7 linked regions of the Homo sapiens genome follow. Changing the gene in region 1 together with any one later gene gives a genetic interaction. Each region holds a gene or a part of one and is shown in the gene's direction. Other genes may lie near its edges. The genes, in order: EP300, CUL5, ETS2, MEF2C, SEC31A, CUL4A and CTNNB1.

Region 1 (4,218 bases):
CCCTCAGCTTTTAGGAATCCCTGTAAGTATTTGGTGGTACTTTTGATTTTATTTTTTAATTTGATAACAGCTTTATTGAGAGATAATTCACATTCCAAACAGTATAGCCACTCATTTCAAATTTGTAATTCAGTGATTTTTTTTTTTTCCCCCTGAGACAGGGTCTTATTCTGGTTGCCTAGGCTGGAGTGCAGTGGCACGATCGTGGCTCACTACTGTCTCCACCTCCCGGGCTCAGGTGATTCTCCCACCTCAGCATCCTGAGTAGCTGGGATAACTACATTCATGTGCCACCTCACCTGGCTAGTTTTTTGTATTTTTTAGTAGAGACGGGGTTTCGCCATGTTGCCCAGGCTGGTCTTGAACGCCTGGACTCAAGCAATAGGCCCATCTCAGCCTCCCAGAGTGCTGGAATTACAGGTGTGAGCCACTGGGCCTGGCCTAATTCAGGGAGTTTTAGTATATTCACAGAGTTGTGCATGACACTTTCATTTTCATCATCTGAAAAAAATCCTTTACCATTAACAGTCACTCACTATTTTCTCCCATAGCACCCCAATCCTAGACATCACCAGACTGCATTCTGTCTCTGGATTTGTCTGTTCTACATGTTTCATTAAATTGGAACATACAGTATGTGATTCTTTGTGCCAGGACGTTCCTTAGCATAATGTTTTCAAGGTTCATCCATGTTGTAGCATGAATCAGTAGCACATACCTATTTATAGCCCAATAATATTCCATTATTTTTCTTTACCTGTTGATGAGTTGATAGACATTTAGGTTGTTTACACGTTTTGACTATTAAGATAGGACTGTAGTGAACATTGTGTGGATTTAAGTTTTTATTTCTCCTTGGTATTTACCTAGGAGTGGAATTCCTGGGTTATATAGTTTGTTTACTTTTTTGTTGTTGTTATTTGTTTTTTGTTTTTTTGAGATGGAGTTTCACTCTTGTTGCCCAGGCTAGAGTGCAATGGCGCAATCTCAGTTCACCTCAACCTCCCCCTCCCGGGTTCAAGCAGTTCTCCTACCTCTCAGCCTCCCGAGTAGCTGGGATTACAGGCATGTGCCACCATGCCCGGCTAATTTTGTATTTTTAGTAGAGATGGGGTTTCTGTATGTTGGTCAGGCTGGTCTCAAACTCCCAACCTCAGATGATCCACCCACCTCGGCCTCCCAGAATGCCCAGATTACAGGCGTGAGCCACCGCACCCGGCCACTTTCGTTGTTTCAAGAGCAATAGGTCATAGCAGAAAAAAGGACCGTGGTTAGCTTTGTTTTTAAAGTTGCCTCCATATACTAGGCTGCTGGCAGATTTCATTTGGTGGTTTTAAACTGTTACTTGGCCGGGCACGGTGGCTAACGCCTGTAATCCCAACACTTTTGGAGGCCAAGGCAGGCAGATCACTTGAGTTCAGGAGTTGGAGACCAGCCTCACCAACATGGTGAAACCCCATCTCTACTAAAAATATAAAAAGTAACTGGGCGTGGTGGTGCACGCCTGTAATCCTGGCTACTTGGGAGGCTGAGGCAGGTGAATAGTTTGAACGACCCTGGGAGGCAGAGGTTGCACTGAGCCAAGATTGCACCACTGCACTCCAGCCTGGGCAACATGTTGACAGAGACTCCATCTCAAAGGTCAAGTGCTTCCAGGGGCAAAAGCCTTTTAGGACTTTTCCTCTCTTGTATCTTGCTGTGATTTCAGATGGAACATTTTAAGTTCTGTGGGCTTAGTTTCCTCATTGTACACCCCTTCTAGTACTAAAATTTTAAATGTCTTTGACTTTACTGATCTCACATGTACTTTCATAAAGAACCTGAAGTTGCTTCAGTAGAATATCAGCCTGATGTCTAGAAAGTCCATAGTAGTTCTGTTTCTCTGCCCTTTGAGTAGTTTAATATCTCTGTAAACTAATATTTAAAGAAGTGATGGACATCAGTCACCTCTTGGGGAATATAGACAGGCCAGAAACTAAAACACTGCCTGGAAAATTAACAATGATAATGGATGATACTCCATCTCCCGTAAAAATAGTGAGACTTGAGTAATGTTTGATGTCACTTGTCTTTCTAGGATTACTTTGATATTGTGAAGAGCCCCATGGATCTTTCTACCATTAAGAGGAAGTTAGACACTGGACAGTATCAGGAGCCCTGGCAGTATGTCGATGATATTTGGCTTATGTTCAATAATGCCTGGTTATATAACCGGAAAACATCACGGGTATACAAATACTGCTCCAAGCTCTCTGAGGTCTTTGAACAAGAAATTGACCCAGTGATGCAAAGCCTTGGATACTGTTGTGGCAGAAAGGTAAGAAATGTGTTTCAGATTTGACTTTAACTTTTCTGGGATACCTAGAATAATATAGTGGTGACTGGGATAAGAGAATATCCTGCTTCTGGCTTTGACATGGCTTTTTTTTTTTTTTTTTTTTTTCCTTTTTGACAGGGTCTTATTCTCCCAGGCTGGAGTGCAGTGGTGAGGTCATAGCTCACTGCAGCTTCAACCTCCTGGGCTCAAGCAATTCTCCCACCTCAGCCTCCTGAGCAGCTGGGACTACAGCCGTACGCCACCATGCCTGGCTGATTTTTTAAATTTGTTTTGTAGAAACAGGGTCTCATGATGTTGCTCAGGCTAGTCTTGAACTCCTGGGCTCAAGCAGTCCTCCTGCCTCGGCCTCCCAAAGTGCTGGAATTACAGTCATGAGCCACCTCTCCCAGCCAACACAGTCTTTCTCTTACTGTGTGCCACAGTAGTAATATCTCTTAATATGAAATGGGCTTTCTTTAAAGGCATTTTTTCAGAGTGGCAATTGTATGGAAAAGTTGACTAATTAAATAATCAACAGACTGTTAACTCATCTGGAGTAGGGGCATTCTTATATTCACCTGTGGGTGCAGATTCCTCAGCATGTGCTGGCTTTCCTGTACATACCAATTCACATTATTGGTTTTTTGTTTTTAAAATAAGACTATGGTCTTGCTGTGTTGCCTAAGCTGGTCTGGAACTCTTGGGCTCACGCAGTCTTCCCACCTCAGCTTCTGAGCACTGCAGGCATGTGCCACCCTGCCCAGCTATTCCTGTTAGGTTCTTTGGTAAAGTGATGGAAGGATATGACTGCTAAGCCTACCTCAGCGTTTTGAAATAATGTGGTAGTAAACTGAGAATGATTTTCAGGAACTGAATTAGCCCATCATTATTAACATAAATGAGAACTAAGACACCACTGACTTCTGTTTCTGACTTGCCATTCTTACTGTTCTAGCTTGTCCTTAAGGCCTCTGTGCTTTTTAACAAATGGTTTCTTTTGCAGTTGGAGTTCTCTCCACAGACACTGTGTTGCTACGGCAAACAGTTGTGCACAATACCTCGTGATGCCACTTATTACAGTTACCAGAACAGGTAAGCTTGGCCAGGTGTGGACCATGGTCCATGTGTCCACATGTCCAGGGAGTGCATGCGGATGGGCCAGCACACATACAGTCATGGTTCATGTGTATCTTGCTTGAAGACAGCTGTATAGCACAAGTTCTGTTTTTTGCCTTCTGCCTTTGTTTGCAGAACAATAAAATTTTCTATCAGAGTAGCCTTGCATCAGTTACCTGGGTTCCTCCCAAGAGCTTGAGAAGTTAAGCAACTTTGTGAGTTGTTGGCCTAGATGGGTCTATATCCCAGGCCCCACTTCTCTTTCTACTGTGTGTTTGTTGATCACCACAGCCTGAGGCAAAACTGAGAAGATTTTTAAACTTTTAACTGAAACTCGCTAGACAGCTTTTTGGAAATATTTCCTTTTTAGATGAGGCCTATCCCTAAGTAGTTGTTATTAGAATATATGAAAACAGGATTCTGGAGTCTTTTCTTTGCCTCATATTAAGCAAATTAAAAGGAAAACCTCACATAGCTCTCTGTACCTTACTTTTCCCAACCCAGCCTTGTATGTGACAGAGGATGATTTGAGTCTAATAAACGAGGCACCTCTGCCTAATTTTCTCCTGCCCAATCAATGGCTGTAATCACATAAATCTCATTCACTAATCTATCTTAACCACAATTTGTCTCCTGTTTTCAGTGATCAGCTACAAGTATAGCTTGCATTGGGTGTTTATTTGGGGCTCTGATACAATAATAACAAGGCTGGATGATATTAATACCCTTTATTTGTTTGTTAATACCAAATCCATGGTGTTGGTTTTTGCTGAACTTGTGTGTTG
Region 2 (4,218 bases), on another chromosome or scaffold:
AATTTAAAAAGTGTTTTAACTTGAACATTTACAAATAAAGGGAAGGTGATAATATTTTGAAAAAAAGTAAGTGACTCAGTGACTCTAGTGAACTTTCTTGATGTGTAACTTAGAAGTTAGAAGCCAATGTCATAAAAAAAACCACCAGCTTTTCTTTCTTTTTAATTTTTTTTTTTTTGGAGGGGGACGGAGTCTCGCTCTGTTGCCAGGCTGGAGTTCAGTGGTGCGATCTTGGTTCACTGCAACTTCCGCCTCCCGGGTTCAAGCGATTCTTCTGCCTCAGCGTCCCGAGTAGCTGGGACTACAGGCGCACGCCACCACGCCCAGCTAATTTTTGTATTTTTAGTAGAGACAGGGTTTCACCATGTTGGCTAGGATGGTCTCCATCTCTTGACCTCATGATCCACCCTCCTCGACCTCTCAAAGTGCTGGGATTATAGGCGTGAGCCACCATGTCTAGCTGCTTTTCTTTTTTAATATTGGAATTTGACTCTAATAATTTTATTGTCTGTTTAAAGCAAGTGGACTATTGCTGGATCTTAGAAGTCTTTCAGCTATGTAAAGATTTGTGTAGCACATTTTGACATATACAGTTAACTGCTTAGGGGTTTTGTATCTCTGAAAACCTTTCCATGTAACTACTTTATCTTTGTTGTTTTTCCTTACAGAGTGAGTCTGTAGAACATTTGTAGGGATCTGATATTATAATTTTATCTTCTGTTTTAGATTACTTTGAACATGTAATTGTGATTGTTCCTTTTCTTTTGCAATTATCATCTGGGCCCTTAGTGCTCATTTTTTTCATTTCCAGTTTATTGTTCCACCCCAAACAGCAATTGTTTAAACCTTTTCTTGCTGAGCCTCACCCCTCTTAATTCTTAGTACATTACTTTACCCAGCTATTTGAAGTGCCCTTAACTTCCTTGGTCGATACCAAACATTTTTCTTGTTTCTCCTATGTTCTTCTCTGTTCCATGCTACCTCCCAAATTGTCTCATTCTGCTTGTTCTTTTTCAGTCCTCATCTTCCCCCCAGGACTTGGTGGTATGTCCCCTCTTACTTTTTTTTTTTTTTTTTCAGTTTCCCTTTTTTCTCCTATGCCTATAAGAAAGTTCATATGTCGCGTCATATAAACTTTTCTTTTTTTTGGAGATGGAGTTTCGCTCTTGTTGCCCAGGCTGGAGTGCAGTGGTGTGGATCTCCACTCACTGCAACCTCCGCCTCCCAGGTTCAAGCAATTCTCCTGCCTCAACCTCCTGAGTAGCTGGGATTACAGGCACACGCCACCACACCCAGCTTATTTTTGTATTTTTAGTAGAGACGGGATTTTACCATATTGGCCAGGATGGTCTCAAACTCCTGACCTCAAGCGATCCGCCTACCTCGGCCACCCAAAGTGTTGGGATTACAGGCGTGAGCCACTGCACTCTGCCTCCTCATACAAACTTGTACTCTGCCTCTGCCTCAAACTTCTGTTTCTCACTGTCACAGTTCTTGGAAAAGCAGCCCCCATTTGCTGCCTTTATAATTCTTTGCCCTTTAACTTAATGATATGGCTTACTCTTCTCTCCCACCCAATTGTATAGAACCTGTCAGTCATAAAAGTATTAGCAACCTCCTGATTATCAAATGAGATTCTTCTCTGATAATATTTATCCTCTTTTCTGGTATTATTGCTCATTTCCTCTGCTTCTCTTTTGGTTTTTATGACATTCCCTCCTTGGTCTTCTCTCTCTCAAATCACGTTTGTTTTTCACTGACTTCCCTCCCCTGTCCCCAATAGAATTATTTCTCAGGATTTTATCTTCAGCCCTTTTCTATCTTTGTATATTTTTTTCTGGGACAGTCTTAACTCCCATGATTTCACTATTTTTATCTCTTAGCTCTGATCTGAGCTCTAGATCAAAATGCAGTTCTCACCATATCACTTTCCTGTTCAGATACCTTTGATGATTCAAATTATTTGAGATCTTTCCAGCTGGGTCTTCTCCTGATAACTAGTATTCTCTCTCTCTGTCTCTTGTCTCTCTCTCTCATACATGTGTGCGTACACACTCCTACTTAGCTGGTTACTTGTTGGCTCACTAGCATGCCAGAGGTCGTCATCTCCCTAATAACTAACTCTTAACTTTCATTCTCTCTCCTTCTGATTGGATCTAGTGAGATGGAGGCACAAGAAGGCAGTAGTATATAACCGAACCACAAGATAAATCAAACTTTAAACTGAAATATGATTCATACTACTTTTCTCAGTGGACTTTTTTTTATCCTTTAAGAGGAAAGAAAATGGAAATGTAAAGCAGTGATTCAGAGTGTCTATAGAGGCCGGGCATGGTGGCTCATGCCTGTAATCCCAGCACTTTGGGAGGATGAGGTGAGAGGATTACCTGAGGCCGACCTGGGCAATGTAGCAAGACCCTGTCTCTATAAAACAACAACAATAAAAAGTGCCTGTAAAAGTTATTCATTATTAAAATAACTTTATTGACATCCATATGCAAGGTACCATGGAGAATGCAAAGATATGTAGAACAATGTCCATGCTCTTTGGGAATTTACCATATGCTAAAGGAGAGTAAAAGGTACTAATGATTTATGATAAGGCAAAAGTTTCAGATGTGTTACCAACTGCTCTATGCTCCCTCACAGATTGAGGAAATAATTTCTGGTGGGATGATCAGTGAAAATTTTATGGAGAAAGTGTTGGAGCTGGATTTTGAATAAAGTGTTGGAGCTGGATTTTGAATAATGGGTAAGCTTTTTGTATTGGTAATTAGGAGAAAATTTGGTAGGAATCTAGGCTAGATCAGTGTGGCTGCAGTGTAAGCAGGGCTGCATGCTGTGTTAGATATTCTATATGAATAGTGTTCCTTGGGATTGTTGCAGCATAGAAACCCAGAATACAGGGAAACAACAAGAGGGATAGGAGTGAAAGGGAAGTCGGGTCAGATTACAAAGGGCCTTCAGTGCTAGGCAAGGGGTTTGAAATAAAGTTCTATAGTTACTGAGGAATATTTGAAAAATATGTGGGCAGAGATACTCTCAAGCCCTCAATCTATTTTTGGCTTTTACACATAAATAAAAGTTATTATATTTTCTGTATATTTATAATCTGCTTGTGAGATTGGCCATGGATGAGGGGCATTTGTGCCAGTGACATCTTGTTCATTGAAACCGTAACCATAGCAGGAGTAATTAAGTCTATGGGAAATACATTTATTCATTGAACGAGAATTTAGTATTTCCTAATTCTAACTAGATAATGATGAACTAGGCAGACAGCTCCTGCCCTTGTATAATTTACATTTTTGTTGGGAAGAGAGACAATAAACATAAACAGTGAAATACATACTGTAAGTCAAGTTGTGATAGGTACTATGAATAAAAACAACCAGGGTAAAAGAGAGAGTGCTCGGTGCTCTTATTATTATTATTATTTTTATTTTTATTTTTGAGACGGGGTCTCACTCTCTTGCCCAGGCTGGAGTGCAGTGGCACGATCTTGGCTCACTGCAACCTCCACCTCCTGGGTTCAAGCAATTCTCCTTCCTCAGCCTCCCGAGTAGTTGGGATTACCGGTGACCACCACCATGCTCGGCTGATTTTTGCATTTTTAGTAGAGATGGGGTTTCACCATGTTGGCCAGGCTAGTGTTGAACTCCTGACCTTAAGTGATCCTCCCACCTCAGCCTCCCAAAGTGCTGGGATTACAGGCATGAGCCATCACAGCTGGCTTATTTTTGATAAGATAGTGAGGGAATGCCTCTGAGGAGATAATAGTTGAGGTAAAACCAGAATGAAGCAAGGGAGCAAGTCATGTACATATTTAGAAGAGTTCCTTGTAGAGGGAACAGCCAGTGTGAAAGCACAGAGTCAGGATCATGCTTGGCAAGGAATATGGATGTGATACGAAGATTTGAATATCATCGGTGAATGTGGTTAAGGTGCATAACCAGAGAATTCTTTTTAATATGTCTAGTTAAACATAAATGAGAACCTTATTAAGAACTTGTCAATTTTTCATTGGGTTGATAGAAATTGCCCTCTTGAAACGTATATCTAAGAGGGACATGGGCCTTAGAGCGGCCTTCCCCTCCTTCAGTGTACTGTCCTAGAGAGATGGTTGCATTCGACACAGCCTAGGGAGGAAACAAATTTCAAGGGTGTCTGTGTTGGTCATGGGTAGGAATGGGAGAGGGAATAGTGGACTAATCAGTA
Region 3 (4,218 bases), on another chromosome or scaffold:
CTGTTGAAAGGAAGGAAGGAAGGAAGGAAGGAAGGAAGGAAGGAAGGAAGGAAGGAAGGAAGGAAGGAAGGAAGGAAGGAAGGAGGGAGGGAGGGAAGGAAGGAAGGAAAGAAAGAGGGAGGGAGGGAGGGGAGGGAGGGAGGGAGGGAGGGAGGGGAGGGAGGGAGGGAGGGAGGGAGGGAAAGAAATAAAATACAGTAGGGATTATTTAGGTTAAAAAAATATAAGAAAATAAGCATGTTTATAGAATTCAGGGAACTAGTCCTCACCTGACTGATTTTAAACACACTGAATTTCAGCATCAACTGTAGACTCAGAATCTCGAAAACACCTAGGATTCAACAGCTAACTTTTTTTAGTTACGGCGTCTGAGGGCCAGGGAAACTCATTTTTAAAGACCCTCATTTCTTCTGAACTTGGACAGGGCTTTTCTACCAAGTTTCTGGTGATCTGTTTATTGGCAAATTGGGCCTGTTTTACCATTCCTCGGGCCTGTGAGTTTGTGTGTATTTGGGTTTCCGGGTGGACGTGCACTTTGTAATATATTCGTAGTAAGTATGCATACACAGTGCACAAACCTTTTCCCTTTCAAAGTTCTTGGGCACATGTGTTCCCCATCCCAGACTCCCACAGCCCTGGAGACTTCCCACACCCTGGGGAAGCGTGCAGGTTTGGAAGCAGTGGAACTGTAAGCTTCACGGGGGCAGACACCATCCATTTTATTAATTTCCTGTATGCAGCCTCTGGTACAGATGGCATTTCATAAATACTTAACTGTTTCTTGAATGCATGAATGAATTCAATACACCATCTGGACCTTTTGCGATAGAAAATTTAGTGTTGCCAATGACATCATTCATTTTGGAAAATTTATTTTAGTAATTGGAAAAATGGGTTGCTTTCTCTCGTTTTTTGAAAAAGACAGGCAGGGACGTGGAGCACCATGAGATTAAATGTGAAGCACTCCGTGCATCTCATCATTCTAAAATTATCATCTCACAGGAATTCAGAAAGTCAATTTGTTCTGTGTAGTTTTCACCTACATCTGCCATCTTACGTCTCCTGTGTCTGCTTTTCAGAAAACCAAGAAAAGACAGAAGATCAATATGAAGAAAATTCACACCTCACCTCCGTTCCTCATTGGATTAACAGCAATACATTAGGTCAGTCCGATTGATTCTGCCCTTAAGAACTTTGTCTTCAGTCTTCCCAGTAGACTTGGAATCTCTCTACTGTAGGCTCCTAAGGGGCCACCTAGACCTGTGTGTCTCTTATGGTGGCCACACGTGGGTGTTGAGCTATAAGCCATTGAAATGTGACTGGTCCACATCGAGATGTGTAGGAAGAGTATAGTCATGCACACCAGATTTGGAAGTCTTAGTATGAAACAGAGAATATAAAATGTCTCCCTGATAATTTTTAATGTATTGATTACATATTGAAATGATAATTGCTATATGAGGCCAAGTAAAATAAGAAAATTAACTTCACCTGTTTCTTTTTGCTTTTTTAATATGGCCACTAGAACTTTCGCAGTTGCTTAAGTGGCTCACACGATCTTCCATAGGTCAGCACTGTTAGTGCTAGTCCAGGCAATTCTTAGAGCAAGGAGCAGAACGAAGTGAGCTGATTACCGCAGTCACCAGTAATGTTGGTTTAGTGTAGCAAACAAGAGGCGGCAGGCACAGAGTGCGTGAAAAGCAATTTGTAAACTGGCTCTGAACTTGGGAGCTTAAAGAGCTGTCATGGAATCTGGGTCCTTTCTTCTGGTTGCTGATACTGGGGAGGGCACAGGGTCTGGCCAGGCCAGCGAGGGAGGGGTCCTCGGAACAGCAGGCTTGGGTGGTGTTGGTCCGGCCCAGTGTTTTCTCTCTGGCCCCAGCTCCACCATTCAGACCCGGTGAAGCCCACCTCTCTGCCCCACTGGGGGCTTCCTGCTCAGGAGGTCTTTCTGAACATGACAGTGGGACACCCTGTGCCTGCCTGAACCTGAATCAGAGTCAGAGAGCTTCCTTCCCTCTCCAGAAAATAAATTATTCTGCAATGAACAGAGACAGGAGCGGTGTGATGAAGGAGCAGAAAGCAGAGTGGGCTGTGCCTCAGCACACAGGGTTCATGGCCTGGTTCTGCCCTTATGAATCACACAGTACATGACACGTCACTTGGTCTGTCTGAGCCTTACTCTCCTCGGAAGCTAAAAGAGCCAGTGAGCCCTGTCTTCCTGAAGGTCCCATGAAAGCACTAGGGTTGTAGAAATAGGAACATTGAGTCCTGCCTGCAGAGGCTGCAGTCATTTTGGCAGAGGGCTGCTGGTTGAGAAGCTGAATGGTTTGAGAAGAAGGCCTGGTGACAGACCCCCACCAAAGCCCGGGTCTCCACTGAGGTTCTGCAGAGGGCTGGAGTGTGCGGAGTGCTCACCTGTCATTTGCTCGTAGGGGTTAGTTACTGGGGTAACACTGACTTTAAGAGCTCTGCCGTCCGATTGTTCTGTTCCAGGTTTTGGCACAGAGCAGGCGCCCTATGGAATGCAGACACAGAATTACCCCAAAGGCGGCCTCCTGGACAGCATGTGTCCGGCCTCCACACCCAGCGTACTCAGCTCTGAGCAGGAGTTTCAGATGTTCCCCAAGTCTCGGCTCAGCTCCGTCAGCGTCACCTACTGCTCTGTCAGTCAGGACTTCCCAGGCAGCAACTTGAATTTGCTCACCAACAATTCTGGTAAGATTGGAAGCATCTTTCAACAAGGCTGTTGCTTTGATTCTGAGAACCCCAGAGCCATAATGAACCTCTTAATAAATACTTCCTGGATTCAGCCATTAGAGAAGGGGGTCAAAGCCCATGTTCTAAGTGGATTTCCAACAAGCATACCCCTAATATGTTTCAGGCACTGGCCCAGGTACTGCAGGCATTGAGTAAACAAAACAGTCCCTGCTCTTACAGCCAGATTTCTCCACACTTTGGGATATTTATGGAGGCGATGCAGGAATGTGACATTTCTTCTTATGGAGATGTAACATAAATACAGTGCACAAGTCTCAGGTCATGTGGCTGGTTGGATTTGTGTATGTATGTATACCCATGTAATAACCATCCAGATGGAGATAGAGAAGTTTCCAGTAGCCTGGAAGATTCCTTCGTACCCCTTCCCATCAATAATGTCCCCCCGACAGAAGGGAACGATTCTGACTTTTATCATTACGGATTAGGTTTTGATTTTCTTGAACTTTACATAGATGGAATCATAAGGCATGTTTTCTTTTGTGTTTGTCTTTTACTCATCATGTCTGGGATTCATGCATGTTGTTGGATGTAGCAGCCATGTGTTCTTTTTCATCGCTGTATAGTATTCCATTATAAGAATTTTATTCATTCTACTGTTGATGGAAGATAGGATTTGTGTAGTATAGTTACCCTAAGGAATAAGCACCTGAGTAGAGAGCATTTTGAGAAGTCTGAGTGGTTCTACACCAGCAGGTGCATGATTGCACTGGTAGTGGTTGGTGATGCTATGGTCGTGCCCAAGACCAACTGTGTCCTGGAGGAATCAAAGTATGTGTTTGGTTGTCTTTGCCAGGGACTCCCAAAGACCACGACTCCCCTGAGAACGGTGCGGACAGCTTCGAGAGCTCAGACTCCCTCCTCCAGTCCTGGAACAGCCAGTCGTCCTTGCTGGATGTGCAACGGGTTCCTTCCTTCGAGAGCTTCGAAGATGACTGCAGCCAGTCTCTCTGCCTCAATAAGCCAACCATGTCTTTCAAGGATTACATCCAAGAGAGGAGTGACCCAGTGGAGCAAGGCAAACCAGTTATACCTGCAGCTGTGCTGGCCGGCTTCACAGGTGTGTGTGGAACTCCGAGAGCCTGGCCGCCCAGTCTCCTGGGTCCTGTCCCTTGCTTCCTTTCGAGCCACAGTACCACATTCACCGAGGGTGTTTCTAAGCTAGGTACACCAGTGCTCTACACTCCATGTTTTATGCGTGGCTTGCTGTATCTCTGAATTCGACAAAAGCCACACTTGGAGGAATTTTCATGTACACAGAGCTCCATGGAATGAGTGAAAATTGACAGGCCACTCCCTCCACCTGGGACGTTCTGAGGAATAGTTGGAGCAGGGGACATGGCCTGTGCAGTCTTCAGCCCTGACTCACCCACTCCAAGAATCTCAAAGAATGTAAACTGGCTTAGGGAGGGGCAGCAGAGCCAGTCTCAAATAATATGG
Region 4 (4,218 bases), on another chromosome or scaffold:
TAAAATATTTCTTCTTCTGGGAATTAAAGTCTCATGATTTTAAGTTTATGTGGTGGATCTTTTATCTCTTTACTGTAATGAGTTAAATATTCGCATTAGCTGCTTTGCCATCTAGTTTGAGGGAAGTTTAGAAGAATCTGAACAAAGTGGTCACAGCACCACCTGCTGGTCAAAATATAACATGAGCCCCTACTCATTTGCTCTCTGCTGTATGTAGAACTGAACATAAAAACTACCATGGTTGATTTTAATTTTTTTTTAATTTGCATTTGAATGAAAACTGAAACAATGGAAGTACAGTATACATATTTCATCAGTTTTCAACATAGTCTGTTTTTACCCATAATAAAGCTATGGTACTTGTTACTAGTTCAGTTGCCTAGGAGATACTGATGTAATGGGTTACTATGGCAACAGCTGGTCTCTTGAAGGATTGTAAATGATAGGGTTGGCAGAGTTCATAGAGACACATGTTAAATGATTAATTTCATGAGATTTGTACCAAGTTATCTCTTTATGTGGAAAACTAATACTGAAATCTAATATTTTTAACTTTTAAAAAAATTCATCAGTAATGTCTTTTTATTTATTTTAAAAGAATCAAAGGATAAATAACTCCCAGTCGGCTCAGTCATTGGCTACCCCAGTGGTTTCCGTAGCAACTCCTACTTTACCAGGACAAGGAATGGGAGGATATCCATCAGCCATTTCAACAACATATGGTACCGGTGAGTAGCTTTGTCATGTGCAATTAGTACACTAAATACTTTTTATTGAAAATCAAGATGAAAAAGTTATCTTTTACTCTATTAGGAAGCTTTATTTAGGGCCTGCGCCGTCCACAGCACTGCAGCATTACCCATTCTTCACTAAGACAAAGTGAATATCCACATTTTTCTTTCTTAACTGACTGAAAGTTTTATTTATGCAACCTGAGTTCAAAATAGAAACACACTTTCAAGAAAATTGAGCTGTTTCTTTGATGTAATAAAAAGCTCACTTTCTCAGGATTGTTTAACATTTCTACATCATCAAATATGTACATACCTTTATACTAGATTGTAGTTCTAATAAACTAGAATTGCGGACTATGCTACTTCAGAGCATTCGTGGAATACTTATTTTTGGTTTATAGTATATTCCTTTTAAATTAGAATTATCGCTGATGCTTTATCTCCCCTCCCCTCAAAATTAAAAATATCTATAATAACGATAATCCTAATAGAATATTTTGGAAATTGAAAATGTTTATTCTATTTACCATTTGATAATTTCTAAATTTAATATTTTCCCTTGTTGTTTTATTCTTTAATCTAGAGTACTCTCTGAGTAGTGCAGACCTGTCATCTCTGTCTGGGTTTAACACCGCCAGCGCTCTTCACCTTGGTTCAGTAACTGGCTGGCAACAGCAACACCTACATAACATGCCACCATCTGCCCTCAGTCAGTTGGGGTAAGCAATATTATTTTTTATAATATAATTTTAGAATGTATTTTGAAAAACAAATGACAGTCTCTAAATATGTGCTTCAATATCCCATTAACGGGTATAAAACTCTACTTTATTGAAATCCAAGTGTAATTTTCAGATCAATACTTTTCAAGTAGCTTAAATCTTATATACCTGTTTTTTAAGAGGACAGCGAGCTCTGTAATAATGAGGTAAATTCTTTCCTTATTGTTTTAGGCTACATTTGTTTCCACTTCTATCAGTGATATAATTTTTATTTAGTTTTCACACAGTTCATTTGGGACATAAGAAGGCATTTATAGTATAAGCTTAGATATTTGAGAATTTTTCTTTTTTCACATAAACCATATGGTTTATGCTAATGTTAACCTAATACACATAGGAACAACTAGTCAATTGATACACAGGCTTCATGTATTTATAATGTACTCATAGTATAGTTGTATACTTATAGATATTTTAAGAAATATATGTATATAATACTAACTAGTACATATAATACTAATTACCTAAATTTGGATATAAAAATAATTTTTGTTTTATGTAGTCAGAGGATGTATCTTTCTGCCCCCTTGTGGTAGTTTTCAGATATGTCTTTATCATAGAAATGACTCTTGTCATTTATCTATGGAAACGTTCAAACCTTTAAAAAGCTCTGAATTCACAATTCACACTATTTCATATAAAACAAATCATTTTTTTAAAAAAGCTTAAAACGTTAACTGAAAGCCTGACTGTAAATTTAATAAGTCCAAAATTGCAATTAATCTTCAAAAGAAAATACCAGGAGGATATAAAATATTTAAAGATAACAAGCTTTTATATTTTAAAAATATTCTGTCTGCCTAGCCCACTTTTACTTTTCTGCTTAGCCATTTGTTATCGTTAATCACTTAGCTGTATTAGTTAACTAGTTATATATCCATATGTCTAAGGAGACAGTGAGAATAAAACACTGATTAGTATAAAAGTCACTGATTTATACCACAACTTTGTGTCTCTTATGTTTGCTGGTGCCCTCTCTCCCCCCACCCACTAGCTTTCACATGATAGTGATTTAGCATATATTAGTGATCTGATTATGAAATATTCACCCGTACACTGTTTGCTTATGTTCATCCTACCCGCTAATCACTGTCATTGAAAATCTAACCTTTCATTTAAATAGTAAGATAAATTCACGTGATACTGTTGGTCAGCTTTCTTGAAAGATAGTTAACTTTGAAGATACATTACATATTGATCAGCGCAGAGTTTTATCTTTTTAGGACACTTAAATTTTCTCTGGAATGTTAACTATTCAAGTAGACATTAACTGTGGGAACTTCTTCAGGTAATTATCACCAAGCACATAATTCCATCCAGGCAACTAAAAAATATGTACATGTATACATATTTTGTACAAAGTATCAACTGCTATGGCTTAGCAGGGAATCCACTGAACATGATTCTTGTCAAAAATAAACATAACTGCTTATTTCCCATTTTTTTCACAAAATTCATCCATTATAGGGCTAGATTTCCCTAAAAGTTATCAATGTCAAAAGCCATATTATTTTCTCTGAATGTGGCTTTTTTTTGTTTTCAATAGTACCTGATAATTTATATTTTTACATATAAACACATATTTATTTACATATTTTAGCTGTACTACAATTTTAAAACTCTTTTCTATTACAAGGAAGAATCTAATTCTCTGCTGCCTCTAATAGAGGTTTCAGAAAATGAGAAAGGAGGGACAGCCTTAGACAGAAAGGAACTGAATTACAACAGCCAAAGGTTAAGCATTTTGTTCAGCTCCCGGTTCCTTTCAACACTTAATTTCGTTGTGCTTAATTTGACTCTTAGTTTTCTCTGTGAGTTTTAATTGCACTTAATCACTTCCCTTACCCCTCAAATCAATGGAATGACCCTTCCAGTCCTTCCACTGTTGGCCCTTCTCTCTCTCTGCTTCACACACACTCTTTTCTCCCTCTCACAATCACACACAGAGTAGCTTTTTGAAAGGAGGTTCCTTCACATGGACTACCTCATATTCACACGATTAAATGTTAAACTGTTTTTTTAAAAAATCCCAAGCTGCAATACTTATGTAAAGTAATTCACATGAGCATCCTTAATTCTTTACAGTGTAAATCAATTTAAAAAGAATTGATACATTTTCCAGGCCAAAGTTGTCGCAGAGATTTGTGTTGCGGGCTCACATTCTTTTGGCTAGAGACAATGTTCATAGCAGAGTGGAATATATTTCAGCTCCACCAAAGTAGATATTCCCAGCAGCCCAAGATGGTTACCACAATTCTTTCTCAAAATTGCAAAACCATAAACAGAGTTCTTCATATTTTGTCCATGGAAAAAAAGTTCATTTTGTCCTTTGGAGCTTTAAGTCTTCAAAGCTATACTTTTAAAACCTAGTATCTGATTTTATCTAACCAAGCTAAGTAAGCAACACAAATTTATTTGCTATAGGGAGAGAGATGGCTGACAGAGGAACTTGCCATCAAGAGTTAATGAAAGTCCTTTGAATACTAATATTTGATTTAGTGTAACACTAAGTTTTAGTGTTTTTCTAAACCACCACCTATAAAAAGGGCAGCCTGTTTTCTGGAAGCATTTCCATACGTCAACTTTGTTGATGTGGGTGTTCAGTACATACTGAGAGAGATAACTCTGAGTAGAGATGACTTATAAAAGGTTAGGTTAAATATAGTTTGATAGTCTAATTTCCAGGCGGAGGCAGTAAAAAT
Region 5 (4,218 bases), on another chromosome or scaffold:
AAGAGGAGTTAGATTAGAATAACAAATAGAATTTCCTGGTTGGTCATTTTGCCTCCACTGGAATGTCTGTTTCTTTATACGGTACTGGTTTTTCAAAGGTAAAGCAGTCTTGAATACAGTTAGGTTAAAGTATAAAATTAAAGAATTTATATTTTGTAATAATTTTGGGAAAGAATTTTAGGACATAGAATATTCCACATAGTTTGAGTTTTGTATCAGTTTAACCTTTGGACATAAGTTTGTATTTACAGAAATTACTGTTCAAAAGTAAGCTTTATTCAACCAGGATAATTAATTACTAGTATATTTACTATTAATAAATAACTTATTTAAAAAAATAATTCTGGGCACATGTTCTCAGGACCTCCTGAGGCTGGGTCTCCAAATAAAAAACAAAAAAACCCACTATTCTTTGGATTCCTTCAAACAGTGAATCTTTAGAATGTAGACTTCAGATATTTTTAATAATTCTCTTTGGAATTTGATTCATTCTTATAAAAATTCGGCCTTTAAATGTAGGTCTTTGTTTTAAGAATATGTCTTTTTTTTTAAAGGTAAACTTTGAGGATGATTCTCGTGGAAAATACCTTGAACTTCTAGGATACAGAAAAGAAGATCTAGGAAAGAAGGTAAACTTTTGGGAAAGTTAGATGGCATGCTCTTTATGAATCATACTTTTAAAAAATAAAGTTCTACACAGATTATCTCAAATCACCCAATAAACATTTAATAATAATTTGTGTTTGGTTGCCAGCGTTTTTTCCCTTTTTCTTTTTCTTATTCTCCATCATTACCCACAGTGGTTGCCAGAGTTTTGAATACATATTGATAAATGACTATGTAACTTGTATTAGCCTTTCATCATTCTTTGGAAATGGCTAGAGTTTTCTATAGCATTGCAGGTTGTTGCATGTGTGGTAGAGGTATACTGTGCACTTTAAGTGCATATTGAAGATTAGTGCTCTTTTGATGTCAGGCAGAACTAACTAAGATCACATCACAACCCCACTGCTTAGTGGCTATGTCTTTGCTCACTCCTTTAGAGTTTTATATTTAACTTTATTAGTAGTCTAAACTTCTTGAGGCTGTAACTTTTTTAGGCTTGTAAGAGATTGATATGAAAGTTTTACTTGCATGCCTGATGGCAAAAAATGAGGAAATAGAATGATTGTCGGATTATTTCTAATTACTTCCATGTGAAAGAAGCTAGCACCATGGAGAACCAGTTCTGCATAGCTTTTTTAATTTTTTTAAACATACTATTCCTATAAGAACTTTTGTGGATTTTCGCCAGTGAGAAGCAAGAGGTGAACATTTGCTGGATGCTCTGAAATAGAATTCCATGTAGTAGGTGAGCTGTTATTTTTATTTCAGATTGCTTTGGCCTTGAACAAAGTGGATGGAGCCAATGTGGTAAGAAGGCCTTTAAAAATAGCTACCTTCTAAAACTTTGGCTAGGTCATAACGAAGAAGGAAATATCATTTAAGAAATTTGTGTTTTATGCTTTATGGTATAAAAATAAATGCTTATTCTAGATATTTTAATAAATTAATAATTCTCATTTTAAAATAACATGAGCTTAGCTGGTAGAGCATTCCTTTCTCTTGACATACATATTTGAATTTTGTAAAGCAGGAAAAACAGAATTAATGACTACTCAAATACTTAAGATAAAATTTTTTTTTTTTTTTTTGGCCAGGAAAAAAAAAATGGTAGGAAAGAATGGGAAAGTGGGCCGGGTGTGTTGGCTCATGCCTGTAATCCCAGCACTTTGGGAGGCCGAGGCAGGTGGATCACCTGAGGTCAGGAGTTCAAGACCAGCCTGACCAACATGGTGAAACCCTGTCTCTACTAAAAATACAAAAATTAGCTGGGCGTGGTGGCACATGCCTGTAATCCCAGCTACTTGGGCGGCTAAGGCAGGAGAATTGCTTGAACTGGGAGGCGGAGGTTGCAGTGAGCCGGGATCGTGCCACTGAACTCCAGCCTGGGCGACAGAGTGAGACTCGGTCTCAAAAAAAAAAAAAAAAAAAAAAAAAAGAATGGGAAAGTGTTAGCAGTAATAGTTCTTTGCTTTTCCTCTAATGGTATTTCTCAAATAAATTTACTCACTGTTGCTTCTTATGATTAAACTAGCTCTGAATGTTGTTGGTTGGGTCTTTTGTCTTCCTGGTTCACTAATAGCCTTTTAATACTACATTCTTCACCTTCCCCTGTAATTGTTTTGTGTACCAAAGGCTCTTAAAGACTCTGACCAAGTAGCACAGAGTGATGGGGAGGAGAGCCCTGCTGCTGAAGAGCAGCTCTTGGGAGAGGTACTTATTTTTTTTTCATATTATATTGGACAAATTTGTGATATTTGTGTATCTCACATTAAAATAAGGAAAATTTTCTTGACTACTTATGGCAAAATAAAGTTGAAGTAAATTGTTTTCTTTGAGATGTTTAGGATAGGAATCTATCTACCTATACTGACAGAAGTATCATCTCCAGACTCTAGTTCTCCAACCTTGTTTCTGGATTATATGGTTTAAAACTAACAGTTGATGTGAGATTAACATAATTTGGTCAGATGACTCTCAGGATGTCAAACTGAAAAGAGATTTTATTCAAACATCCTCACTGCATTGCATTGCATGTAAAGTTAATGTTTTTCTTGGCCTATAATTTTGGGCCAACTATCAGTGGCTAATAGGCCTCTGAATTAGTACTGAACATGGAGTTGAAGTAAAGGATATTTCACTAAACTTATTGTCATGATTTTCAATAAATGTGTCCTTAGTTGATAATTTTTGTAAATAATTGAGAAGAGTCCTTGAACACAGAGTTACATCATTAATTTTTCCTTTTAATTTTCTGGGTGTTTTTTTTTTTTTAACCACTAATGAACAAATCTGTAATTTACTTTTCTTGCTTTCTAATTTTATTTCATCTTGGAAAATTAATCAACAAGTTCTTCTCATCTCATCTTTGGCTTTTTCATTGTTCTTTGTGATATCTTGACTATGGAATGTTATGTATAATTTTTTACTAAGTTATAAAAATAAGTAAATTTAGTCTATTACAAGATGATTGCAAAAATCATTCTCCTTAGAAGTGGATCTCCTAGAGTTTAATTAACAAGGGAATAAAGGATATGGATAAAATCTTTACTAAAACTTTGAACTAGGCCAGGCATGATGTTTGCTTATGCCTGTAATCCCAGCACTTTGGGAGGCCAAGGTGGGAGGATCACTTGAGGCTATGAGTTCAAGACTAGCCTGGACAACATAGTGAGACCCTATCTCTAAAAAAAAAAATAAAAAATTAGCCAGGCGTGGTGGCACATGCCTGTAGTCCTAGCTATTTGGGAGGCTGAGGTAGGATCACTTAAGCCCAAGAGTTCGTGGTTGGAGTGAGCTATGATCACACCATTGCATTCCAGCCTGGGTGACAGAGCAAGACCCTGTCTGATTTAAAAAAGAAAAGAACTAATTTTGAGAATATTTAGACAGAATTGTAAGATACATAGAGAAATGTACTTTCATTTATGTACAACTAGACTATGTATTATCAAATAGAAGATCATTTGGGAATGCACTCATGAATAATAGGTAAGAAATATATGCATTTAATGAAATAGTAGTCATCAATGTGTACTTTTGGTTCTTTGAAAAAATGTGTTTAAGGAGGTAAAATCTTCCCCTTTGTCTCAATGAGCTATTTGTTTCATAGTAGCTTACACATTGAAGGCACTCAATACCTAATAAATTGTGCATTTTTTGACCTTATATCTCGTTCAGAAGTCCATAAATAAGGATAAATTGTTTCTAGAAAGCAAATTTGAGAAATAATGAGTTAAAAAAAAGAAAAGTGGCCAGGCGCAGTGGCTCATGCCTGTAATCCCAGCACTTTGGGAGGCCGAGGCGGGCAGATCACGAGGTCAGGAGATTAAGACCATCCTGGCTAACACGGTGAAACACCACCTCTACTGAAAATACAAAAATTTAGCCAGGCGTTGTGGTGGGGCGCCTGTAGTCCCAGCTACTTGGGAGGCTGAGGCAGGAGAATGGCATGAACCCAGGAGGTGGAGCTTGCAGTGAGCTGAGAATGCGCCACTGCACTCCAGCCTGGGCGACAGAGCGAGACCCTGTCTCAAAAAAAAAAAAAAAAAATATTTTTATGCAAGTTTGTTAATGAATGTAATTAGATCAGTGTCTCTGATTTATTCCTTAATG
Region 6 (4,218 bases), on another chromosome or scaffold:
AGAAATCTTGCTTAATCTGAGGTCACAAAGTTTTCTCTTATACTTTCTTCCAGACATTTTAGAGTTTTAGGTTTTACATCTAGGTCTACGATCTATGTAGAGTGAATTTTTGTATATATTGTGAAATACAAATCTAGAGTCAGAGTCGGGTGCAGTGGCTCATGCCTGTAATCCCAGCACTTTGGGAGGCCAAGGTGGGTAGATCGCCTGAGCGTCAGGATTTTGAGACCAGCCTGGCCAACATGGTGAAACCCCATCTCTACTAAAAGTACAAAAAATTAGCCGGGCGTGGTGGCAGGCACCTGTAATCCCAGCTACTTGGGAGGCTGAGGCCGGAGAATCGCTTGAACCCGGGAGGCGGAGGTTGCAGTGAGCCGAGGTTGTGCCACTGTACTCCAGCCTGAGCAACAGAGTGAGACTCCATTTCAAAAAAATACAAAGAAAAGTCTAGAGTCAGTGTTTTCCCTGCAAATGTCCAGTTTTTCAGTCTCTTTTCCCCTACTGAATTGCCTTTGCTCCTTTGTCAAAAACCACGTAGGAGTAGGAGGAGTGAGTTGTGAAATCAGGGTGTGTTGGCCCCCCAGCTTCATACATTTGCACAGGTTTCTGGCTATTCTTGGTCCCTTGTGTTTCCATGTGAATTTTAGAATCGGCCAATTTGTATAAGAAAGTGTGCTAAGATTTTGATTGACGGTATATAGAATCTACAGATCAATGTAGGAGAATTAAATTCTTAACAGTATTGAGAGTCTGGGCTCAGTGGCTCACACCTGTAATCCCAGCACTTTGGGGGGCTGAGGTGGCCTGATCGCTTGAGCCCAGGAGTTCGAGACCAGCCTAGGCAACATGGTGAAACCCCATCTCTACAAAAAATTTAAAAATTAGCCTAGTGGGGTGTTGCATGCCTGTAGTCCCAGCTACTCAGGGCCCCCACACCACAACCTGGAAGCTCTTCACACAGGAAGCTGAGCAGTTGGGGCCTGTTTGTCTCCCATCTTTCTGAGATTCACTGTCTTTCATAGCCCAGTACTCAGTGCTTCGAAAACTGTTGCTTCGTATATTTTGCCTGATTTTGTGGTTATTTCAGGCAGAAAGTTAATACAGTTCTTGTACTGTGTCTTGACTAGAAACGAGTCCCACCTGAACTCTCAGAGGTCTTTGGTTTAATAAAATATGATACCTTACAGCTAAAGCTTCTTACTACTCTTTTCCTGGAGATTTGGCTGTCTGATATCTGCTGCCTCATTATTTTTACTTAAAAAGGCGGAATTACTTTGCAACACCTTGTACACAGTGATATGTCTTATAAAACAATCACTAGATATTATGAACAATGTTTGTAGGTGCCTTAGGTGTCTGTCTTGAAACCCTGAGAACTAGGAGTGCTTACCCCAAAATGACAGTCACTGGTTCCTCCTTGGAATGAGACATCGCAAATTCCAGGGGCATCTCTGGAGGTGCTGCCCCACCAGGGGATATGTGGAATCAGTTGATTCACTTACTTGTGATCATCTCTCCACGCACAGGTGGGCTTCTGGCCTCTCACAGAGTCTGAAGCATGAGCTGCCTCAGATCTATTGGAAGCAAATGGGATAGAAATCTAAGAAAAGCAAATGTGAAATTACTGATGTCTGATCAAGCAGGCAATACATTTGACTTGGTGTTTCAAAATAAAGTCTCAGTTTTTGTATAGGTGGGGTGGTGTATACTTTGCCAAAGAATCTTATGTGAAAGGACCAATTCTCACCCAAGTTTGAAAGGTTTGGTTTCGTGTTTGGTTTTTGGTTTTGCTCACTCTCCCTCTACGTCTAAACACCTTAGGAGTCCTGTCACTTACACTTTTTGGGCCTCAGCTGGCCTGTTGTTTCTGTTTGTTACTTTGTTTTTATCATTTTCCTCCTGTAGTGTGTAGAGGAGAATGTTGTGAAGGCATGGATCTTTTCCATTGAACGACCTGAATTTCGGTCTGTAATAACTAACTCCTGAAGAAAGTGCATCTTCTGTGTCTTGTGTCTCTATGTTTTAGTCCTGCTTGTTGCTAAATGAGACAACAGAAAACTGAAGACTGCATTTCTAGAAAGGTTTCAGAGAAAGGCTGTGTTTTGATTTAGAACTGGTTTTTTTGTTTTTTGTTGCACAAAAACAAACCTCTCAGGCCCTTTAAAAAAAAAGAGAGAGAGAGGTGTGGCCTCCCTATGTTGTCCAGGCTCCTTGGGAACTCCTGGACTCAAACAGTCCTCCTGCCTTGGCCTCCCGAAGTGCTGGGATTCCAGGCGTGAGCCATTGCACCCGGCTGACATGCAAGTTCTGAGGAAAGCCAGGCTGTCTTTCTTGAGTCACGGAGTAGTTGTCTTCATGACATGTTGATACCAGGTGATAATGGTCAGTGAAAGAGAGAGGTTAGTCCTTTGTATTAGGTGGCATCCTTCCCTCACACCCAAGCTGCAGGCCCAGCGTAGGAATGGGACCTCCACAGCCACACAGGTCTCATCCTGTGTGGCTGTGAAGGTCGCTATATGACTCTGGAGGTAGCTATGTGACTATGGAGGTCTCGTCCCGTGTGGCTGTGGAGGTCGCTGTGTGACTGTGGAGGTCACGTCCCATGTGGCTGTGGACATCTTGTCTGTGTGGCTGTGGAGGTTGCTGTGTGACTATGGAGGTCTCGTCCTTTGTGGCTGTGGACGTCTTGTCTATGTGACTGTGGAGGTTGCTGTGTGACTGTGGAGGTCGCGTCCCGTGTGGCTGTGGAGGTCACTGTGTGACCATGGAAGTCGCGTTCCGTGTGGCTGTGGAGGTCGCTGTGTGACTATGGAGGTCTCTCTCGTCCGTGTGGCTATGGAGGTCTGTGTGGGAGTATGGAGGTCACATCCCGTGTGGCTGTGGAGGTCGCTGTGTGACTGTGGAGGTTGCTGTGTGACTATGGAGGTCGCTATGTGACTATGGAGGTCGCTGTGTGACTATGGAGGTCTCATCCATGTGGCTGTGGAGGTCTCTGTGACCATGGAGGTCACGTCGCATGTGGCCGTGGAGGTCGCTGTGTGACTATGGAGGTCACGTCCCATGTGGCTGTGGAGGTCGCTGTGTGACCATGGAGGTTACTGTGTGCCTATGGAGGTCGCTATGTGACTATGGAGGTTGTTGTGTGACTATGGAGGTCTCGTCCATGTGGCTGTGGAGGTCTCTTTGTGACTATGGAGGTCACGTCCCATGTGGCCGTGGAGGTCTCTGCGTGACTGTGGAGGTCACGTCCCGTGTGGCTGTGGAGATCTCTGTGTGACTATGGAGGTTTCATCCATGTGGCTCTGAAGGTCTCTGTGTGACTATGGAGGTCGCGTCCCATGTGGCTGTGGAGGTCGCTGTGTGGCTATGGAGGTCGCGTCCCGTGTGGCTGTAGAGGTCGCTGTGTGACTATGGAGGTCTCGTCTGTGTGGCTGTGGAGGTCGCTGTGTGACTATGGAGGTCGCGTCCCATGTGGCTGTGGAGGTCGCTGTGTGACTATGGAGGTCTCGTCCGTGTGGCTGTGGAGGTCGCGTGTGTGACTATGGAGGTCTCGTCCATGTGGCTGTGGCGGTCTCTGTGTGACTATGGAGGTCTCGTCTGTGTGGCTGTGGAGGTCTTTGGGTGACTATGGTGGTCACGTCCCATGGTCCCATGTGGCTGTGGAGGTCGTGTGTGACTATGGAGGTCTCGTCCACGTGGCTGTGGAGGTCTTTGTGTGACTATGGAGGTCACGTCCCATGTGGCTGTGGAGGTCGCTGTGTGACTATGGAGGTCTCATCTGTGTGGCTGTGGAGGTCTTTGTGTGACTATGGAGGTCACGTCCCATGTGGCTGTGGAGGTCTCTGTGTGACTATGGAGGTCATGTCCCACAGCTCCATGGCCTTCCTTGTTCTGTCTTCCACATCTGAGAGCAGGGATTGCCCTTATCCGCAGTGAGCATTTTGTTTAAGTAGCAGTGAGTTCACTCCAGGCAATGCTTTGACACTATAAATAGACGTGTATTTGACATTCACACACGTGTCTGTTGAGCTAATACAGACAATCATTTGATGAACCTGCTAGTTAGGAAGTAGCTGTGATGTGAGAAGAGACAGTGCTGGCTGTAGATATACACCAAATTTCCTCACTTGGCTGTTGATACAAGGAAAGCATCTTGATACTAATAGGAGTAGAATGCAAATGATACTTCTCTACCTCCGATCATTGGATTACATTCCT
Region 7 (3,720 bases), on another chromosome or scaffold:
CCCAGAATGCAGTTCGCCTTCACTATGGACTACCAGTTGTGGTTAAGCTCTTACACCCACCATCCCACTGGCCTCTGATAAAGGTAAATTGTCAAAGTAGAATTTACCTTTGTTGCAGAATTGAAAATGAAGCATCTCTAGCTGTTGGATGGCTGTCTAAGCATAGTGATCAATAAGTAGGAATTGTATTCCTTAGTAAGTAGGAAGTATGGCTGCGATAGGGGTAAGATTCTGAAATGTTTGTGTAGTCAGAACTACTTTTAGTTGATACCAATAGATTTAGTGTGGTGGGAATTTTAGGGTAAGAAAATGATTTTGTTGAGTTGTATGCCAGTTCTTCCTTCTGTTTTTCAGGCTACTGTTGGATTGATTCGAAATCTTGCCCTTTGTCCCGCAAATCATGCACCTTTGCGTGAGCAGGGTGCCATTCCACGACTAGTTCAGTTGCTTGTTCGTGCACATCAGGATACCCAGCGCCGTACGTCCATGGGTGGGACACAGCAGCAATTTGTGGTAGGTAAATTCTTACAGTGATACCTGGCTATCTAAAAGGAATGCATAAATCCAAAGGATCCTGAACTTCTTTCTTTGGTCATTGGTTCCCCCCATCCGTCTTCCTGAAGAGCTAATGACAAAGTAAATAAATAAATAATTACACATTTCTATGGCTGCAGAGAAAATAAGGCATAGTGTGGCCCCAGTGATATTTCCTTGGACACGTCCTTCACATGGTCAGTCTTACAAAGGTTGGGTTAGGTGTTTCATAAAGTGTTCTCATTTAATTTACACAAAGGCCCACTTCCTTAGGAAGAGGTAGAGTCATAATTTGAGATCAAATCTGTGTAATTTCAGAGCCTCTTACCCTTGCCTCATCATGCATTTTGACTATAAATATTTAGCAGTCCGTTTTATTATCTTTTCTGTGAGTTAAACTTTTTTCATGGACCTAAGAATATTCAGAAATAAGTAGTAGCATTTCTGTACTCTTAACCACAAAAATCTCAACCTGAAGCTTTGATACAAAGTTTGTGTCTTAAAAGTAGCTTCATTAAAAGTATAGTCTAATGACATTTCTGATTTCTCAGACTTTAAGACCTTATTAGGTTAGTTTAGAAAACAAAGATGGAGCCTACCAGAACAGATGTTAGGAATCTCATTTTGCTGGTTGCTTTGTGTATGTACTCATATTGGGGCTTTGGCTTTCTTCATTTATTACTGTTGGTATTGGCCCATCTCCATGAGGTGACTTAATAGAACGTTGAGGGCACCTTTTATTTTAAATCTCTTTTCTAGGAAGAAGAGAGTTTTTGTGTCCTTGTAAGAATCAAGTTATTTATAAAAGCTGCTAAATGTAGCAGAATAATAACCCCTTTTAAAACTCAAATCCAGAAACAGGAGAAACAGATGGTACTTACATATTGCAAAAGCTATCTTCCTTCTATACATGAGGCTGTCAGCTGAATAGTCTTGGAAGAGTGAGGAGTGAATTTTTCTGCTGGCAACTCGGTTAGTTTTAGCAGTTGGTGCTAAAACTTGGCAAAGTTTTCACCAAATACATGGAAGATATACAAAAATAGAGGGGGCATGTAAAAGAAAAACGTTGACATAGTCTGAGCATTACTTTCTCATCTTCTCTTTTTATATACCTTTTACCCAGAATGATTGGTGCCCTTACTGTAGGAAAGTTGTCTTTGGGATTCAGCGCTGTATGGAAGCTCTGTTGCACTGTGTATGGGGGAGGGGTGCTGCTTTGAATTAGTGCTGCCAGGAGGCCTCTTTTCAGTGACATTCAAGTTAATGGAATCCTTCTTCCTTCCTGAACTAATTGCAAGTTACGGGGAACTTCGGGTATATAATGTAAATAATTACAGTCTAATAATTGTTCCTCAAACTTTACAGAGGAGAATGCCCTGTTTGTTAACCATGTTTCTTTTGGCAGGAGGGGGTCCGCATGGAAGAAATAGTTGAAGGTTGTACCGGAGCCCTTCACATCCTAGCTCGGGATGTTCACAACCGAATTGTTATCAGAGGACTAAATACCATTCCATTGTTTGTGCAGGTATGTTTTAAGTGAAGTGTTCTAGGTTTTATGTCCATAAAATTTCCAGATTGTAATGACTAATAACATTTCAGAAAATTAGGGACCATAATAGGGTTACCAACATTTAATTTTATGAAAATTCCCTACATTTTTTGGTCAGTAAGAGAAACATTGAGACTTGAGAAGAGGGAGGAGATTTCACATTTCACTTTTATGGGTGCCTAGAGGGGAGAGCTGACCTGGGCTGCCAGAGGCAGGGCATAGACCCCCAACCAATTCTGGGTTTTCCAAATCTTAGATCAGTTAGAGCTGCCTCTGAAGAAAGGGTTTATAGCTAAAAAATATTATGGAAATCCAGTGCTCCAGAGCATTAAACACCCCAAGACATAAAATTCAGAGAATATTATTTACTACAGTGTGAATGCCTCTTGCACTCTGAATTGGGAATGTTTGCACCACAGTGGGGGGCTTGCCATGTTTTAGCTTTAGATTTAATTAGGTTTTGTTTGTGTTTTCTCCTTAGCTGCTTTATTCTCCCATTGAAAACATCCAAAGAGTAGCTGCAGGGGTCCTCTGTGAACTTGCTCAGGACAAGGAAGCTGCAGAAGCTATTGAAGCTGAGGGAGCCACAGCTCCTCTGACAGAGTTACTTCACTCTAGGAATGAAGGTGTGGGTAAGTAAAAAGGAACCAAAGCCTTTAGCAGATGTGTACATTGAAGTCTCAGTTTTTCCTCAAGGGCCTTTTTCTCCTTGTCTCTTAGCGACATATGCAGCTGCTGTTTTGTTCCGAATGTCTGAGGACAAGCCACAAGATTACAAGAAACGGCTTTCAGTTGAGCTGACCAGCTCTCTCTTCAGAACAGAGCCAATGGCTTGGAATGAGGTAGGGAAATGTGAGCAGTTATTTATCTGGTAGTTTCCTAGAGCAGGTATGGCAGCTTGTTCTTTCCTCTCAAAACACTTAGTACACATTCATTTGCATTGATGTTTCCCTGGCTTGAGTATTTCTTCTTTATGCTGTCTAGCAACTGCTCTGAGGAAGAACTATAATACAAGCTTTAAAGAGTCTGTTCAGAATCATTACAAATAAGTTGTGTTATTTAAAATTATAATTCATAAGGGAGAAAGATGAAAAATGTTACCAGATTAAAGAAGATTTTTCAAAAGGATGTAAGGAAAGAGGCAGTGTTAAACACTGTTAAGAGGACAGTTTATCAGTATTTTTTACTAAACTTTAATAAAACTTTTCTATTTGAATTTCTGCTATGAATTTTTCTTCAGCATTTGTCCTCAGTACAGGTGGTTCCTTGAAACATTGTTTCTAATAAAACTAGAACATCCTGATATTTTATCCATTCTATAGAGATCATTGATGGTACACAGACATACAGTGGATTATGTTTGTTGAGTGAATGGAAAGAGAGATTGTTAGGTTTACAACGATGCAGCTCTTGAGACCGGAGTTTAAGATCAGCCTGGGCAACATAGTGAAACCCCATCTTTAGCTGGGCATGGAGATGGATGCCTATAGTCCTAGCTACTGGGGAGACGGGGGCAGGAGGATTGCTTGAACCCAGGAGTTAACAGACTGCACTCAGTGACAGAGCCAGACTCCAACACAAAAAAAAAAAAAAAAAAAAAGCAAATTACCAGTGAGTAGTGTGTTACTTGGGTTTTT

Evidence for each region.
Region 2: changes in EP300 (region 1) and CUL5 together harm fitness more than expected from each alone (negative genetic interaction), as found in Homo sapiens cells (one large-scale study listed by BioGRID).
Region 3: of EP300 (region 1) and ETS2, changing one enhances a phenotype caused by changing the other (phenotypic enhancement), as found in Homo sapiens cells (one study listed by BioGRID).
Region 4: of EP300 (region 1) and MEF2C, changing one enhances a phenotype caused by changing the other (phenotypic enhancement), as found in Homo sapiens cells (one study listed by BioGRID).
Region 5: changes in EP300 (region 1) and SEC31A together harm fitness less than expected from each alone (positive genetic interaction), as found in Homo sapiens cells (one large-scale study listed by BioGRID).
Region 6: changes in EP300 (region 1) and CUL4A together harm fitness more than expected from each alone (negative genetic interaction), as found in Homo sapiens cells (one large-scale study listed by BioGRID).
Region 7: of EP300 (region 1) and CTNNB1, changing one enhances a phenotype caused by changing the other (phenotypic enhancement), as found in Homo sapiens cells (2 studies listed by BioGRID).

What each region holds. Positions count from the first base shown.
Region 1 is NC_000022.11:41,155,092-41,159,309, forward strand, and holds part of EP300 (histone acetyltransferase p300), read left to right. Parts: coding exon 1-22; intron 23-2,077; coding exon 2,078-2,317; intron 2,318-3,320; coding exon 3,321-3,409; intron 3,410-4,218. UniProt on the Homo sapiens protein: Functions as a histone acetyltransferase and regulates transcription via chromatin remodeling. Acetylates all four core histones in nucleosomes. Histone acetylation gives an epigenetic tag for transcriptional activation.
Region 2 is NC_000011.10:108,011,464-108,015,681, forward strand, and holds part of CUL5 (cullin-5), read left to right. Parts: intron 1-4,218. UniProt on the Homo sapiens protein: Core component of multiple cullin-5-RING E3 ubiquitin-protein ligase complexes (ECS complexes, also named CRL5 complexes), which mediate the ubiquitination and subsequent proteasomal degradation of target proteins.
Region 3 is NC_000021.9:38,815,929-38,820,146, forward strand, and holds part of ETS2 (protein C-ets-2), read left to right. Parts: intron 1-1,079; coding exon 1,080-1,163; intron 1,164-2,496; coding exon 2,497-2,718; intron 2,719-3,574; coding exon 3,575-3,838; intron 3,839-4,218. UniProt on the Homo sapiens protein: Transcription factor activating transcription. Binds specifically the DNA GGAA/T core motif (Ets-binding site or EBS) in gene promoters and stimulates transcription.
Region 4 is NC_000005.10:88,725,728-88,729,945, reverse strand, and holds part of MEF2C (myocyte-specific enhancer factor 2C), read left to right. Parts: intron 1-598; coding exon 599-728; intron 729-1,317; coding exon 1,318-1,453; intron 1,454-4,218. UniProt on the Homo sapiens protein: Transcription activator which binds specifically to the MEF2 element present in the regulatory regions of many muscle-specific genes. Controls cardiac morphogenesis and myogenesis, and is also involved in vascular development.
Region 5 is NC_000004.12:82,859,729-82,863,946, reverse strand, and holds part of SEC31A (protein transport protein Sec31A), read left to right. Parts: intron 1-554; coding exon 555-629; intron 630-1,374; coding exon 1,375-1,413; intron 1,414-2,238; coding exon 2,239-2,316; intron 2,317-4,218. UniProt on the Homo sapiens protein: Component of the coat protein complex II (COPII) which promotes the formation of transport vesicles from the endoplasmic reticulum (ER).
Region 6 is NC_000013.11:113,212,358-113,216,575, forward strand, and holds part of CUL4A (cullin-4A), read left to right. Parts: intron 1-4,218. UniProt on the Homo sapiens protein: Core component of multiple cullin-RING-based E3 ubiquitin-protein ligase complexes which mediate the ubiquitination of target proteins. As a scaffold protein may contribute to catalysis through positioning of the substrate and the ubiquitin-conjugating enzyme.
Region 7 is NC_000003.12:41,233,785-41,237,504, forward strand, and holds part of CTNNB1 (catenin beta-1), read left to right. Parts: coding exon 1-83; intron 84-354; coding exon 355-513; intron 514-1,939; coding exon 1,940-2,059; intron 2,060-2,564; coding exon 2,565-2,715; intron 2,716-2,803; coding exon 2,804-2,925; intron 2,926-3,720. UniProt on the Homo sapiens protein: Key downstream component of the canonical Wnt signaling pathway.